4 linked regions of the Homo sapiens genome follow. The protein of the gene in region 2 purifies or fractionates together with the protein of the main gene of each other region. This does not show direct contact. Each region holds a gene or a part of one and is shown on either strand. Other genes may lie near its edges.

Region 1 (3,500 bases), on a different chromosome or scaffold from region 2:
GCACAGGAGCCCTGGCCAGCCCCATCTGCATCCCACCTGCTGCCGGGCGAGAGGGCTCCCTCAGAGGCCACCGATGCAGAGAGGCACCTGGTTCTCATCATAGCCCCCACAGGCCAGGACCCCCAACCAGCACTGCCCCACGGGACGCACAGAAAGGGGCGGGCAGGACTCGGGAACACCAGGAGAGGGAAGTAGGCTTGGCAGCCAGGCCTGGGGCACCTGGGCTCCCTGTCTGCGCCTCTGTGCAGGGAGCACTGAGCCAGGCAGCCTACCCGGCCTGTCCCCACGTGCTTGTGCCCAGCCTTGACTCGGGAGGGATCGCCACTGCTCGGACGAGGGGATGGTGGAGAGGAGGGTCGGCAGACTGGGTGGCATGGAGGCTGACCAGTGCTTGGAGAGGCTCGGCCTCTGGATGGACCCCAAAAAAGAAGCCTCCCAGAGTCCACGTCGCCTCCATCTCCTACCACTGGCAAGCGTGTTCTCTGCTCTGGTCCCAGGCACCGTTTCAGCGAGGGACCCAGGGTGAATGGAGCCACCCGGTCACCAAGCTGGGGCTGGAAAGGGAAAGTGGGTCACACCGTCCCCCCAGCCAGAGCAGGGCCCGGGAAGGGCCTTTGAGGGAGGCACAGGCTGAGGGGCCTCTCCCCACCAGCACTGTCCCAGGATGTCTCAGGCTGCCCCTGCCTGGCTCCCTCGGCTGACAGGGAGAAGTGGGGGTGCCCGCCCTGCCCTGACACAGCCTGAGGGCCTGGAGCCGGCCCCTCCCTAGCTGCCGCCCAGGACACTGGGGCCCCAAATCCAGCCGCCTCTCTGCTGCCAACCCCTTGCCCCACTCAGTGTTGCCAGGAAGAGCTTCCGAAAGGAGGCCCACGTCAACCCCCACGGGGCAGCAACTCTGTAGGGGCTGCATGCACACGTGGCCCAGCGCCTGGCCGCCCCCTCCAACGAGAACAGCACCACCCTCCGGGGAACGAAGCCAAGAGAGGAGCCCTTGCAGCTCAAGACGCCCGGGAGGGAGGCGGCACCACAGCGCCTGGGAGGGAGGCGGCACCACCGTGCCCGGGAGGAAGGCGGCACCACAGTGCCTCGGCAGGGAGATGGCACCACAGAGCCCGGGAGGGAGGCAGCATCATGGTGTCTGGGAGGGAGGTGGCACCACGGTGCCCGGGAGAGAGAAGGCACCACGGTGCCTGGGCAGGGAGAGACGGGGCATCCACCCACAGAGCGGGAGTGGGGGCTGCAGGAGCCATCCTGCCTTCTGCAAGACCATTTGTCAACGAGGAACATTTCAGAGGGTCCAGGTGGGGTAGGGCCTGGTGGGTGGAAGGAAGGGGGCCTGTTGGTCCCAGAGAGGCCCCGGCAGTGGGCGACACGGCAGTGCAGGACGGGGCTGTCCTGGGTGGAAAGGAAGGACGACAGAACTGGCTAGGGGCGGGCGCCCAGCAGGCACTCAGGCCAGAAGTGCCAGTCACGCCCTGCCAGGTGAGTGGCTTGGGGAGTGGGGAACCAGGCAGCAAGGGTGGCCTGTGTCCTGGCAGACGGTCCCCAGAGGCAGCCTGAGAGCTCCAACAAACGGAGGGTGTTAGGAGCCAGGCTTGCCCTGCCAAAGCCAATGGAAGGAAGCCCAAACAGCAGAGCCTTTGAAGAGATAAGTGAGGTGACCGTGACATCAAAGGTGGGCCTAGCCCAGGGTGACCTTCCTCATGACCTGAGGACGCGGACCGCACACAGAAGTGACTGTGTGAGGACACCAGGGCAGGGCCAGCCCTGATGCCCAGGGCCAGGACGCAGGTTTCAGGCAGGGGCGGGGGGCTTTGTTCCCCACAGTGGTGCCCCCACACTGCTCACAATTCCCTGTCCTCACTCCTGGCCGCCTCCTCCCAGCCCTCCCAGAAAACCTGCACTCTCCTGGGCCAGGGCCACAGAGGGCTGCCGGGCTACCGGAGCCCCCACACCCACGCACGCTGTCCCTCTCGGAAGCCGGGGGCCGGCCCCTGGACATCCCCCAGGCAGCAGGCAGCCGGAGTGGGGCTCTGCCAGAGACGTGAAAGCTGGTGCTTCCGCGCCCGCCGCCTGCTTGCCTGCCAGGGAGGCAGGCTTCCTTCCCTCAGCCCCGCCAGCTCTCTGACGGCAGGCAGGCAGGCAGGCACGTCACCGGGGACACCACCCCGAGAGGCCCCGAGGCTAGAGCCGAGCTGATGGAGGGCAGGAGACGGTGGCTGGTAGGGAAGCCAAGCGTCCCCAGAAACAGGGCAGCAGCACCCCAGTGCTCTCAGGGGCCTCCCAGCGGGAGGGTGGGCTGCAGGCCTGGGCACTGGTCCTCCTCCATCCCAAGGCATCTTCCAAATTCAATGTTTATCAACTGGCTGGCCAGCAAGGGAGGGGATGGAGACGGAGGAAGGAGGCCCGGAGTCCGCCCGGCAGCTCGGGGGCTGAGAGGGGACTGTCTCACCCCTCCCCTGCCTCCGCTGCAGGGAATCCCGCTCAGTCCTGCTCCTGATCACCCCTGGCAGCTGCCAGCCTTCTTGCCCCAGCTCAGTAAGCGGCTGCAGCCCCAGGCAGTGAGCAAGCTTCTCACCTCCAACCCAGGCCTCTGTAGAGGCCTGTGGCCACTTAAAAAAAAACCCGCCTCTGTGGCTAATTAAAATATCTGAAGAGGCTTTGAAGAGGAAACCATTAGGCCAGAGGGCTTCGGAAGGCCCCAGGCAGCTCTCCCACAGGCCAAGGACAGGACATTCATTGCTTCTGGCTCTGGAGGGCGGCCCAGCAGGGCTGGGAACCCGGCACCCTCACCCTGGCCCCACCCTCAGGAGCCCTCAGGGAGGTGGCAGGGACCCACAGAAGCAGCGGACAGCTATGGGCACCAGGGCGTTCCTAGCAGGGACCGGGGGGCCAGCGGGAGAGGCCGGGCAGGGGGAAGGGGCAGCTGAAGCCCAAGGCGGCCGCCTCCAGCTGAGGGCCTGGTCCCTCTGGGGCTCCCTGAGCCCTGCTCCGAGGCCTGCCGGGCCCTTCCTCACCCAGACCCCTGGGCAGGGACTGCTGCCGCCTTGGCCCCAGCACAGCAGCCCAGGGGGGCCGAGACCTCCAAGCGGCCTCAGTTCAGGCAGGCCGCCTAGCAGGTCCTTTCCCACCCGGGGCCAGGCAGGAAGCAGAGGAGGCCGGAAAGCCGTGTCAGAAGCAACTTCAGAGGCGCACGGCCCCCTCGGAACCCACCGGCTCTCAAAGGCTTTATTATCCTGCCCCAGCGCCTGCCAGGCCCCTCCTTCCTGCCCGAGGCCTCACGCTCTCGTCCTGCCCTCCCTGGAGGGCCCCGCCCCGCAGCACCCCAGGGAGGCCCTCAGGTACCTGAAAGAGGGTCTGCGTGTGGTCGTCCAGGACTGTTTTTGGAGGGGTGATGACTGAGGAGAGAAGGCACCTACGTGTTAGGAAGCACCGTGGACCTCGCCCATCCATGCGCCCGAAGGAAGACAGGCCTGCAGATGGGGGTGACGCCTCAAGTG
Region 2 (3,998 bases):
GGAAACTGAGGCTCAGTGAGAGAGAGGACACGGGGGAAGGCAGGGCACCCCCGGAGCCCAGGTGTGTGTCACACCAGCATCTGGGCTTGTCACTGTGATGCAGCATCTGGGCTTGTCACTGTGATGCAGCATCTGAGCTTGTCACTGTGATGTGGCATCTGGGCTTGTCACTGTGATGCAGCAGTGTCCTTCCAGCCCTGACTGATGGGGTCCCCATGGCAGACGGAGGCCTTCCTCTCTCAGTCCACCCAGGTGCTTTCTTACCTGCACGATGTAGTCACAATCTTCCACCTCGAACGCAATGTCCTTCACTCCGTCACCGTGTTTCACCAGGTGATCGCCCATCTCTGTGGCCGGCAGGGAGAGGATGGCACTGGAGTCTGGAGTCTAGGTCCCCTCACCTGGCTTTTAGTCTCCATCCAGGCCCTGAACCCAGAGCCCACCCACGGAGCCATGCGTCCACCCTCCCAGAACCCAGATCCCACCCACAGAGCCATGCGTCCACCCTCCCCGGGCACCTCACCTTTGTTCCAGGGGTTGAGCGCTGAGGAGAGGACAAACACAATCTAAGATAGGAGGAGAAGGAGGTGAGGCTAGTGGCTCAGGGGGGCATGGGGAGGTGCACCCATCGGCCCCTCCCTGCCGACCCGAAACACCCCTGATGGAGCACAAGAACTCCTGGACCTGGGTTCTAGCTCCTTCTCTGCCTTAGTTTCCCACACTGGTCCTGAGGGATGGGGCTTTCAGCCAGACCCCCTCTGGATCCTCAGAGGAACTGCTAGGTCAGGTCTCCCTCGGGGAGAGAACTCCAGGGACCCCATCGGTCAGGGCACTGCTTAAAATTCCTCTCCTCTGATATCCCAGGTTTTCTGAGCACCTGTGGGGTCAGTGTTGGGCCAGGCTGAGGAGGAAACGAAACTAGGAAGGGCCGTGTTGCATGGCTGTACAAAGATGCCAGCGGAGGGGTCGGTGGGAGCTGAATTATATGTTTTTGTTGTTGTTGTTGGGGTTTTTTGTTGTTTTTTGTTTTTTTTTGTTGAGATGGAGTCTTGCTCTGTCGCCCAGGCTGGAGTGCAGTGGCACGACGTTGGCTCACTGCAACCTCTGCCTCCCGGGTTCAAGCGATGTGCCTGCCTCAGCCTCCTGAGTAGCTGGGATTACAGGTGCCCACCATCATGCCCAGCTAATTTTTCTATTTTTAATAGAGATGGGGTTTCACCATGTTGGCCAGGCAGGGGTTGGGGGCTGTCCTGGGGGTGGTGACTCACCTTCCCTTGTTTGATTACATGGCTGACCACCTCCCGGGAACCGGTCTCCAGGCCCCTGTAGGCTAGAGGTTCAAAGCCCATCTTGCTGCAGTAGAATGACGTGGCCTGAATCACAGGGTTGCAGCAGGGTTCATGAGGGTCAAGGGGCCAGCATGGGGGACTTCCGCAAGAGAGCCCCTGGCCCCCCTCAGCCTGCCTGCCCTATTGCCTCAGGGGCAGAGACCCTCCTGGGAAGATAGACTGCTGCCTGCACATTTTGCTGACAGATAACTTTCCCGCTGGTGTAATTAGGATTCAGAGTATCTGGCCCACCCCTGGCCTGATCCTCCCTCCCAAGGGCCAATCACAGACCCTGCTGGAGGCCTGCCCTTGTCAGGCAGCCCTCTGCCCTGCCGTCTGCTCACTCCAGCACCTTGCCCCGGCTTCTACCTGCTTGGCGTTGCCAACCCAGAAGGTCACAGAGTGGAAGTGGAGGAATCGGCCTCTCTCAGGCTGCAGAAGGAGAGAAGAGGTGAGGTTGAGTCCCTGAAAGTGAGTCTAGAAAAGTGCGGGTGGAGTGATGTCCCCTAGCCACCCTCCTTATTCCAGCCTCAACCACAGAACTTAGGAGCAGCGGAACCCCATGCAGCCTTGCCAAGCCTCAAAAGAGGTTTCTCATGTGGAAGTTGAGCTCCTGGGTGTCTTGGATGGGGAAACCCCCTCAGGAGGCCTGCCAAGGTTTCACACAGGGAAATAGACTTATGTTGCAGCAATATGGATTTAAGTTAGACCTTAGAAAGAACTTCCAGATGGGATTAAAAGATTGGCAGGCATTTGAGAAGGGGTACAGGTTTTGTTTTGGTTTTTGTTTCTGAGATGGAGTTTTGCTCTATTGCCCAGGCTGGAGTGGAGTGCAGTGGTGCAATCTTGGCTCACTGCAACTTCCGCCTCCCAGGTTCAAGCGATCCTAGGGTTCAAGTGATCTCCCCCACCTTAGCCTCCTGAGTAGCTGGGATTACAGGGGTGCGCTACCATGCCCGGCTAATTTTCGTATTTTTAGTAGAGACGGGGTTTCCTCATGTTGACCAGGCTGGTCTCGAACTCCTGACCTCAAGTATTTGCCTGCCTTGGCCTCCCAAAGCACTGGGATTACAGGCATGAGCCACCATGCCCGGCCAGGATACAAGTTTGTTGTGAGGGTGAGGTTGAGTCCAGCTCAGTCTCGGGGAGCCCCGGGGGTAAAGCTGAGTGTGCAGGCATGCACGTCATGTATCCACTCCAGTCCTTCCTCTTCTGCTCTCTGCTGAAACCCCAGTCTCCCTGCACTCCGACCCCCTTCTAGACTCAGGCCCCTACATTTCCCACATTTCGCCTGCTTACCTTTGCCCCTTTGTCACTGTAAGTCGTCTAAGGAGAAAAAGAAGGACAGTGAGACTTGGAGGTTCCAACACAAGGTGCTTCTGGAAGCGTTACTGAAGATGTCCCACCCAAGGGGAGATGGCCATGGCACTTACCATGATTGATCTTAGTCAAACCTCCTACTGGGACTAGAGGCCTGGGGAGTGCTGGGCCGGAGTATTTAACCCCAAGCAGGTCCCGCCCAGGCCTCCTGGCCTACCTGGGGGATGGGGTGGGGAGCTGAGCCCAGCCCTGGAAGGTTCCAGGCCTGGGGACCTCTGATCCAGCCGCAGCCTCATTGAACAGGATGGTGTTGCCAGGCCCAGAGAGGGGCAGTGACGTCCACTAGTCAGTGGGAGGCAGAGTCAGGGCCAGAAGCCAAGGGCAAGCTTTTCCAGGACGCTGGGAATGTGACCATTACTGCCCAGAATCCAAAGCTCAGAAGCCAAGGCCGGCTGGAGTGCAGTGGCGGCTCCAGAACTCTTGCCTAGAGGAAATTTGAGGGGGCATTTGGAGACTGGCCCCAAAGTCCTGTTTGCGTCACAGCGTTGTATTCCATAGCTCTGAGAGGCACGGCAGGAGAAGGTTTGCATCCTGGCTCTGTTACATACAGTGTGACTTGGGAAAATCACCATATCCCTTTGAGCCTCATTTGTAAAACAGGAATGAGAATAGTGTGGTGGGGATTAAAGGAGATAAGCACGCTCTTTGGAACAGGACCTGGCACACAGGACACTCTCAGTGTTGGTTATAATTCATTGGGACAGAGAACATTCCTAGGCCATGAGGTCAGCAAGCGGCAGGGAAGAACTGGAACATGAACCGGGCTATTCTAACTCCAGGACCCACACTTTAAATTGCTAGATTGCCCTCTATACAAATGGGAGATATTGATATCCCCATCAGATGGGGAAACTGAGGCCTGGAGAGGTGAACACATGTCTCCCAGGTCATGGAACTGGTAAGAGCAGAGCCCCAAACTCTGGCCTGTTTGATTCTGAAGTTGGATCTCATTGCACCAGTGCAGACCACTTCTCCCTCCTTTTCTCTATTTTCTGGGCCATTCAGGAGGCAGGCAAGGTGGTCCCACCCCCTTATTCTGCCTGTCCTGGGCCTGCCCAGTGTGCTCCCAGTGTCCACCTCAGCTCCTTAAGTCTAAATTTCCAACTGGGGGCCGGGGGTGGTGGCTCACGCCTGTAATCCCAGCACTTTGGGAGGCCAAGGAGGGAGGATCACTTGAGGCCAGGAGTTTGAGACCAGCCTGGCAACATGGTAAAACCTCATCTCTACTAAAAATACAAACATTAGCTGGGCACGGTGGTGCACGTCTGTAGTCCCAGCTACTCAGGGGAC
Region 3 (3,500 bases), on a different chromosome or scaffold from region 2:
CCAAGAAAAACCGAACACAAAGCTTTAGGATGATTTTTCACATTTTGTTTCACTGACAAGCAGTGAAAATGAATGAGCTTAGCTTTTTTTTAAAATCAAGATGCTACTAGGCCTGTAGTCTCAGTTACTCAGGGGGCTGAGGTGGGAGGATAGCTTGAGGCCAGCCTGGGCAACATAGTGAGACTTCGTCTCTTTAATAAAATATAGATAAATATATATGTGTGTGTGTGTGTGTGTGTGTGTGTGTGTGTGTGTATCTCCAAGATATTTGGTCACAGGCTAGAATTTTAGCTTCAGAAAGTACGTTATATTTATTTGTTTACCGCTTATCTTTTGTAGATGAGGTTAACTGAAATCTTGTGAGTTAAAGATGATAGAGTTACTTGGGGGCAAAACTGAAATTAAACCAGGCATCCTGAATTCTGAAACAATGTCTTCACCATCTAATGAAGGCCCTTGAATAAGTTTTAACAGTTTGGGTTTTGTCTTTTTCATAAAGTAGAGAATTTTCCCCAGTATCATAAACTGATTATGCCCTTTCTACAGGTATTATACCTTTGGAAAATCCAAACATTTCTGCATCAAAAAGACTGTGATGTATCAGAAACTACCTTGATAAACTAGCCAGTCTTTGAGGAATTGTACTGGAAACATTCTAGGATTGTCTACCCTGTAAACTGAACAAGAACATTTATTGTTCAAGTCATCAGATATTCCAACTCCAACTCTATGCCTTGTTTGTCACTATGAAGTACATAAGGGAGACATTACAAGCTGATTACATGCCTAGGTGCTGTACTGACCCTGTAAATCTTAAGCACATTGATTGTGTTGAAGAAGGATGGAGAAAAGACTTTACACTGGTGCCTTTTCATGTAGATCTTTTTATCAGGTTAAGTAGGATTTTTGCCAGCAACCGGTAGAAAAGCATTCTAGCAAAAGAGATGGCAAAGAAGCAAAGAAGTAGTACACAGTGTGGTGAAAGATTGACGAATAAGCTGTTGTAGCTTGTATACACAAATAGCAGGAAATTCGGCTGGATTGGTAGATGGGAGGCAAATCTTGAGTCAGTTTCTAACTATTATCAGAAATAATAAACTACAAATTTTGGATAAGCTATAAGGAACCATTGAGTTTTCTCATGAGGGTAAGGGAGAGTAACAAAAGAGCTGTATTTTTAATGCTAATAATAGCAGGGGAAGAATTATTAACAATCATATTTTGGCATCTGATCACATTCATGGTGGTTTTTTTCTCTTTATAGATACTTAAGTTTCTTCCTTCTCATTGTCATTACAAATATTGCTTCAGTGTCTTAAATATTCTCTTCCAAGACCCAGTTGAAATGTCAGCTCTCTGGAACAGTCTCTTTCCAAATAAGTGCTACTTCTGTTGATTCTGAATATTAGTTCAATCCTTGGCCTATATCTTTTAGCTTTTAAAGAGCCTTTTTATTTGGGGGAATATTTTTTGTTTCAAAGATCTGAGGCCATTTAAGGTATCTTTATTTTTAAGAATAAAGAAAAGGAATATCCAATCTTATATTTGTTAACTAGTTTCCCTCTAAAACTATCCAATCTAAATAAAAAGACTTTATACTTGACAGTTGGACAAAAACACTAAAGAGGTTTATCTGAAAGTGTGCCGATATGAGGAACTTGAGGCTAAAATATGTAAAGAATGACTTTTAAGAGTCTTTATCTTTGTAGAGGGTCAGTATTTTTTCTCAGTACCCACATTCTTCAATTTTATGGTACTACTTTATAACAAATACATTCATGAACTGATAATTTCCAAATGTTTGCTTTAAAGCCCCGTGACACTTGTCACTTTTGTCATCTCCCCATTGATTTCCTTTTTTCTTTCAACTTTCAAAATGAAATTAACTTATTTACTAGCTAGTACCTCTGAAGATATTTTTAAATCTCTGACACCTCACTCATCCAGAACTCTTATCTGGGAACCTTGTCTCTCTGAAATATCCCTAAGAACCAGGAAGAGTATATATATAAAATAAATGCCACAAAGTTGATGTAGTGAAATTCCTTTTCTATTCTCCCTAGAGGATCCCTTAGGCTCTCACCAGAACCTTTTGAAATACTTTTCTCTGAAATAGGTTATTTGATTTCTCAACCCATAACAGAGTAAGAGTAGCCAGTTAAAAGAGGGGCTTGTTGCTGGAAACAAGCATGACCAAAAACAAGGAGTGATAGCTGACAACCTGACAGAAAAGAAACAAGAAAATATATGAAGTATACATAAGACCTCAAAGCAAGGCTGTGTAAGCCCTTGACATAAGGACCAGCAGCCTTGTATACCTCTTGTAGCACCTGAAGACATCACTGCATTTCAGCTTAACGTAAGTGGTATTTATAGTGTAATGTTCTGCAGTCATCCTAAAAGATTTACTTATATATGTTCACTATATTCTGTTAAATAAGGTAGAATATCTCTTTAAATATCTCTAAAGAGAAAAAAACTACATGATACACATATTTCCATCCAAAAGGGTTAAAATTAAAATCTGCAGCCATCTAGAAATCTCAGCCGTTCCTGAATTCTTCATTCCCTAAGGGTTTCGTATATTATTGTAAGTTCTCATTTAATTCCATGCTCTAAGTGATTACTTCATCAGAGACAGTCTGACTGATTAGTTTTCAAGAGTATAGATGCCCCCAGCGTTAAGTATGGTAAACTTCAACTTTAGAAATTTCAGAGACCTAATGTTCTCTCCTTATTGTGCCCTTCTTGAATGGATTTTCCACTGTGCTCTTTGAATGGGTTTATAGGTATTTTTTTTTTTCCCTCAGATTGGCCGGTCGACTGAAAGCCCCATTGATTTTGTAGTAACTGACACGGTTCCTGGAAGTCAAAGTAATTCTGATACACAGTCAGTACAAAGCACTATATCAAGATTTGCCTGCAGAATCATATGTGAACGGAATCCTCCCTTTACAGCACGGATTTATGCTGCAGGATTTGACTCATCAAAAAACATCTTTCTTGGGGTAAAAAGCTTTTTTTCTAAATGATGCTTTCTTTTATACTAGCTTTCATTCCAAGTTACAAGTTACAAGTTGGAAGCTCACTGCTATTATTTCTACTAGGAGAAGGCTGCCAAATGGAAGACATCAGATGGACAGATGGATGGCTTGACCACTAATGGTGTTCTTGTGATGCATCCACGCAATGGGTTCACAGAAGACTCCAAGCCTGGAATATGGAGAGAAATATCGGTGTGTGGAAATGTATTTAGCCTACGTGAAACCAGATCGGCTCAGCAGAGAGGAAAAATGGTAAATACTGAATGGTATTTTCTTAATTAGCTACAATAAACACATAGGATGAGTAGAACTGAATGCATTACATACATTCCAGAAAACTCTTAAATCTATTGCCAACACAGAATACTAAGTCTATCAAACACTGACTACCAAATTCTATACTAGAGGACAGTCTCTTTAATATTTCGTTTAGTAGCCGGGCGCGGTGGCTCACAC
Region 4 (3,500 bases), on a different chromosome or scaffold from region 2:
TTCTTTGTAGGTGCTCTAATGAGGTATTCTGCTACTAGCCAATCTCCTTTGCCCCTATTGCAGACTGGGATCCTGTTTTCCACGCTATCTTTGGAAGGGTGACTGAGAATGAATTTGCTTCCTATGGGTCTCAGCTCAAAGGTCACCTTCTAAGGGATACTACCCTAATGGCCCCATTAAGAATTACAGCACCCCACCTTCAGCACTTCCTCTCTGCCGTCCCTGCTTTATTTTTCTCTGCAGCCCCTATGATCATCTGAACTGACTTCTTTAATGTCGTTTCATGATGGCAGGAAGTGTGTGAATATGCATTCCTGTTTTGTTCACTGCTGTATCAAGGACAGTGCCTGGCATGTGGTGGCACTCAATAAATGTTTATTGGAATGAATAAACTTTAATATAATTGAGTGTCCACAGTGTTTTTACCTGCAGAGGTGTCATTCCCAGCTCATGTCCACTTCTTCCCTGAGCAATTTTGGATAAATCATTTACAAGGCGCTCAAAAATGTTAGCAGCATTTAAATCACAGTCGTAGTTGACATAAATATCCACAACACACTGGGCATCTTGGAAAATAACATACAAGTATCAGAAATTCTGATCAAATAGCAGTTAGGTTTTCTTATCAAACAAGATGTTTGCCAACAAATTTCCCCAGTGAACTACAGACTCCGGTGGCCACATCTCACTCAGGAAACACATGTTGGAAGTACTAGGAAGCTGGAAGACAGGAGGTTGTTTTTAGGCCTGCTTCTGAGCAAATTGAAATCTCAGGCAGTTCATTCCACCCATCCAAGCCTCAATTTTCTCATCAAGGAAGGGGTTAACAATTGCCTGACCCACCTCTTAAAGTTGTGTCACTCTTACAAAATTACATTTGATGCCAGACAAGCAGGATGCTTACTTTGAGGCCACACAATTGTATAGTGTAAGGTAAATCCACATTTACCGTAGCACCCAATCAAAAATTGGCAGCACCAGTATCTTAGGTCCTGTGATTAACAGTACTCAGCTTGTAGGTAACGTAACCAAGTGTCCCAGTTTGACGAGATTAGGGGGTTTCTGGGACATGAGACTTTTAGTGCTAAAACCAGGAAGTCCTTGGCAAACCAGCCTAAGTTGGTCATCCTCTAAAAAAGGAGAGGTGGGGCAGGACTAGGTTAGAATTAGCCTTTTATTGCCAATCCTTTAAAACTCTAAAAGGAGGGGTTAGAAGTCTTAATCTGAGCTGTGGCAAATTAAAGCATCAGAAGTCCAGTGGATGAGTGTCCCCAGGTGGAAATACCTGCACAGATCCTCGTCAGAGTCTGAATGACCATCCACCTGTGCTCAAAAGAACTTGTTGATGTTTCTAAAATGTTCAGGAAAATCTCTTTGAAAAAGACCTATATGACATAAAGACAAAGGAGGACACTAATTAACAGTTTCAACCAGGGCTCAAAACCTCCAAAGTCTTCAGCAGCCAACCCAGTCGTGCAGTAAGTAAAGCACCCTGGGCAGAAGAAGAGTGGAGTGCCCACCTGGCTGGGCAGCAACGGGACCCTGGCCTTGGTGGGGACGGCTGGCAGGGTGGGGCCCACTGGGGAGCTGCCAAGTGGAAATGCAGGACCCATACTGTGACTTTTTGGAGAGAAACCAGAAATCTGGATTTTCATGTAAAATAGGATTTCTCAATTTGGCGACTAATCTAAATGATTTCAAACAATTTACAGACCAAACAGATATGTTTAGGGGGCTGAGCCCAGCAGACAGACCATATTGGTTAAAATGAAAGGCACATAAGATCCGGGGGCAGTAACTTTTTTTTTTTGAGATGGAGTCTCGCCCTGTTGCCCAGGCTGGAGTGCAGTGGTGCAATCTTGGCTCACTGCAAGCTCCGCCTCCCGGGTTCATGCCATTCTCCTGCCTCAGCCTCCCGAGTAGCTGGGACTACAGGCGCCTGCCACCACGCCTGGCTAATTTTTTGTATTTTTAGTAGAGACGGGGTTTCACCATGTTAGCCAGGATGGTCTCGATCTCCTGACCTCATGATCCGCCCGCCTCAGCTTCCCAAAGTGCTGGGATTACAGGCGTGAGCCATGGCGCCCAGGCTGGGGGCAGTAACTTTTTATAAAAAGATATTCTCTTACTCATTCAAAAAGTTCTGATTTACTGGGGTGCCAGCCGATGAATATGCCATTTACCCTCCCTGCCCCTGCCCACTTCTGAGTTCCAGGATGGTAAGATATGAAACATTTTCATGAACCATTTTCCTAATGCTTAGTGTAATATTAGCAGCATTCTCAATATTGAGTATTATAATTAATGACTAATAATAATAGTAAATAATGAAATGAAAAAACTTTGGAATCCGTACCTCTATCTGCATTTTCAAGTGCATTTTAAAGTTTGAAAGAAGAGTAAGAAAAATGGCAAGAGAGAGCTCAAAGACATCAGGCACTGAAGAGACGCCGTTTTTGGACAAGGCCACACAGAGATATTGCTTGATTGCATTGATGAACATCTCGTGAGTCCTGAATACGGGGCCAGCATTTTGCAACACAGAGAGGAGCAGCTGCAGGGAAACCACCTTGGAACGCAGCTCATGGGATCTGGCAAAGAAAATGAAAAACCACAACAGTGCTAAAAGAAAAAATGTCAAACAGTATGTTTCTTGAGAAGGCCTTGCTCCTTTACCAATGAGTAGAATTTTAAAGAATTAATAGCACCTAAATGTCAGGAGAATGAGGGCAGATGGCATGAGTTGGGTCCTTCTGGAATCGCAGGCCCTTTGAGAACAAGAGCTGCCAACTCCTATTTGTCTCTTTCCATCACAAAGTAGAGAATACAGCAGGAGCAAAGTGTCAACTGATTCTGGAGAGCGAGTTCTGCAACTGTACTGCAAGAATCAATGACTTTACATCACTTGTGGGAGGCTGAGACACCTGGCTCACTCTGTTTCACACACCATGAAGATGGCGCTCTTTATCCACCTACCTCACAGCCCTCCCTCCCCACTGCCCATGCCGGAGTTCAGGTATGGTAAGAAATGGTACATTTTCATGAACTATTTTCTTAACACTTATTTTTATTTTATTTTATTTATTTATTTATTTTTTTGAGACGGAGTTTTGCTCTTTTTGTCCAGGCTGGAGTGCAATGGCACAAATCTCGGCTCACTGCAACCTCCGTCTCCTGGGTTCAAGCGATTCTCCTGCCTCAGCCTCCAGAGTAGCTGGGATTACAGGCGCCTGCCACCATGCCCGGCTAATTTTTTGTATTTTTAGTAGAGATGGGGTTTCACCATGTTGGCCAGGATGGTCTCGATCTCTTGACCTCATGATCCGCCCGCCTCGGCCTCCCAAAGTGCTGGGATTACAGGCGTGAGCTACCGCGCCCGGCCTATTTTTATTTTTTAAAATTTATTGTTGCTCTGTTGCCCAGGCTAGAGTTCAGTGACACGATCTCAGCTCACTGCAACCTCTGCCTCCTGGGTTCAAGCGATTCTCTTGCCTCAGCTT

The links.
Region 1: the proteins of HPD (region 2) and ASPSCR1 purify together in Homo sapiens (affinity purification with mass spectrometry; 2 studies listed by BioGRID and IntAct, with this or other methods). This does not show direct contact.
Region 3: the proteins of HPD (region 2) and PELI1 purify together in Homo sapiens (affinity purification with western blotting; one study listed by BioGRID). This does not show direct contact.
Region 4: the proteins of HPD (region 2) and ARFGEF2 purify together in Homo sapiens (affinity purification with mass spectrometry, with the first as the bait; one large-scale study listed by BioGRID). This does not show direct contact.

Annotation. Positions count from the first base shown.
Region 1 is NC_000017.11:82,012,129-82,015,628, reverse strand, and holds part of ASPSCR1 (tether containing UBX domain for GLUT4), read right to left. Parts: intron 3,474-3,500; coding exon of another isoform or gene 3,399-3,473; coding exon 3,346-3,398; intron 555-3,345; coding exon of another isoform or gene 273-554; intron 1-272. UniProt on the Homo sapiens protein: Tethering protein that sequesters GLUT4-containing vesicles in the cytoplasm in the absence of insulin. Modulates the amount of GLUT4 that is available at the cell surface. Enhances VCP methylation catalyzed by VCPKMT.
Region 2 is NC_000012.12:121,856,060-121,860,057, forward strand, and holds the start of HPD (4-hydroxyphenylpyruvate dioxygenase), read right to left. Parts: upstream 2,801-3,998; 5' UTR 2,765-2,800; coding exon 2,762-2,764; intron 2,655-2,761; coding exon 2,628-2,654; intron 1,780-2,627; exon of another isoform or gene 1,761-1,779; coding exon 1,698-1,760; exon of another isoform or gene 1,560-1,697; intron 1,374-1,559; coding exon 1,269-1,373; intron 588-1,268; exon of another isoform or gene 567-587; coding exon 524-566; exon of another isoform or gene 348-523; coding exon 265-347; exon of another isoform or gene 194-264; intron 1-193. UniProt on the Homo sapiens protein: Catalyzes the conversion of 4-hydroxyphenylpyruvic acid to homogentisic acid, one of the steps in tyrosine catabolism.
Region 3 is NC_000002.12:64,095,921-64,099,420, reverse strand, and holds part of PELI1 (E3 ubiquitin-protein ligase pellino homolog 1), read left to right. Parts: intron 1-2,143; exon of another isoform or gene 2,144-2,359; intron 2,360-2,810; coding exon 2,811-3,008; intron 3,009-3,107; coding exon 3,108-3,296; intron 3,297-3,500. UniProt on the Homo sapiens protein: E3 ubiquitin ligase catalyzing the covalent attachment of ubiquitin moieties onto substrate proteins. Involved in the TLR and IL-1 signaling pathways via interaction with the complex containing IRAK kinases and TRAF6.
Region 4 is NC_000020.11:48,970,211-48,973,710, reverse strand, and holds part of ARFGEF2 (brefeldin A-inhibited guanine nucleotide-exchange protein 2), read right to left. Parts: intron 2,592-3,500; coding exon 2,357-2,591; intron 1,386-2,356; coding exon 1,286-1,385; intron 567-1,285; coding exon 427-566; intron 1-426. UniProt on the Homo sapiens protein: Promotes guanine-nucleotide exchange on ARF1 and ARF3 and to a lower extent on ARF5 and ARF6. Promotes the activation of ARF1/ARF5/ARF6 through replacement of GDP with GTP. Involved in the regulation of Golgi vesicular transport.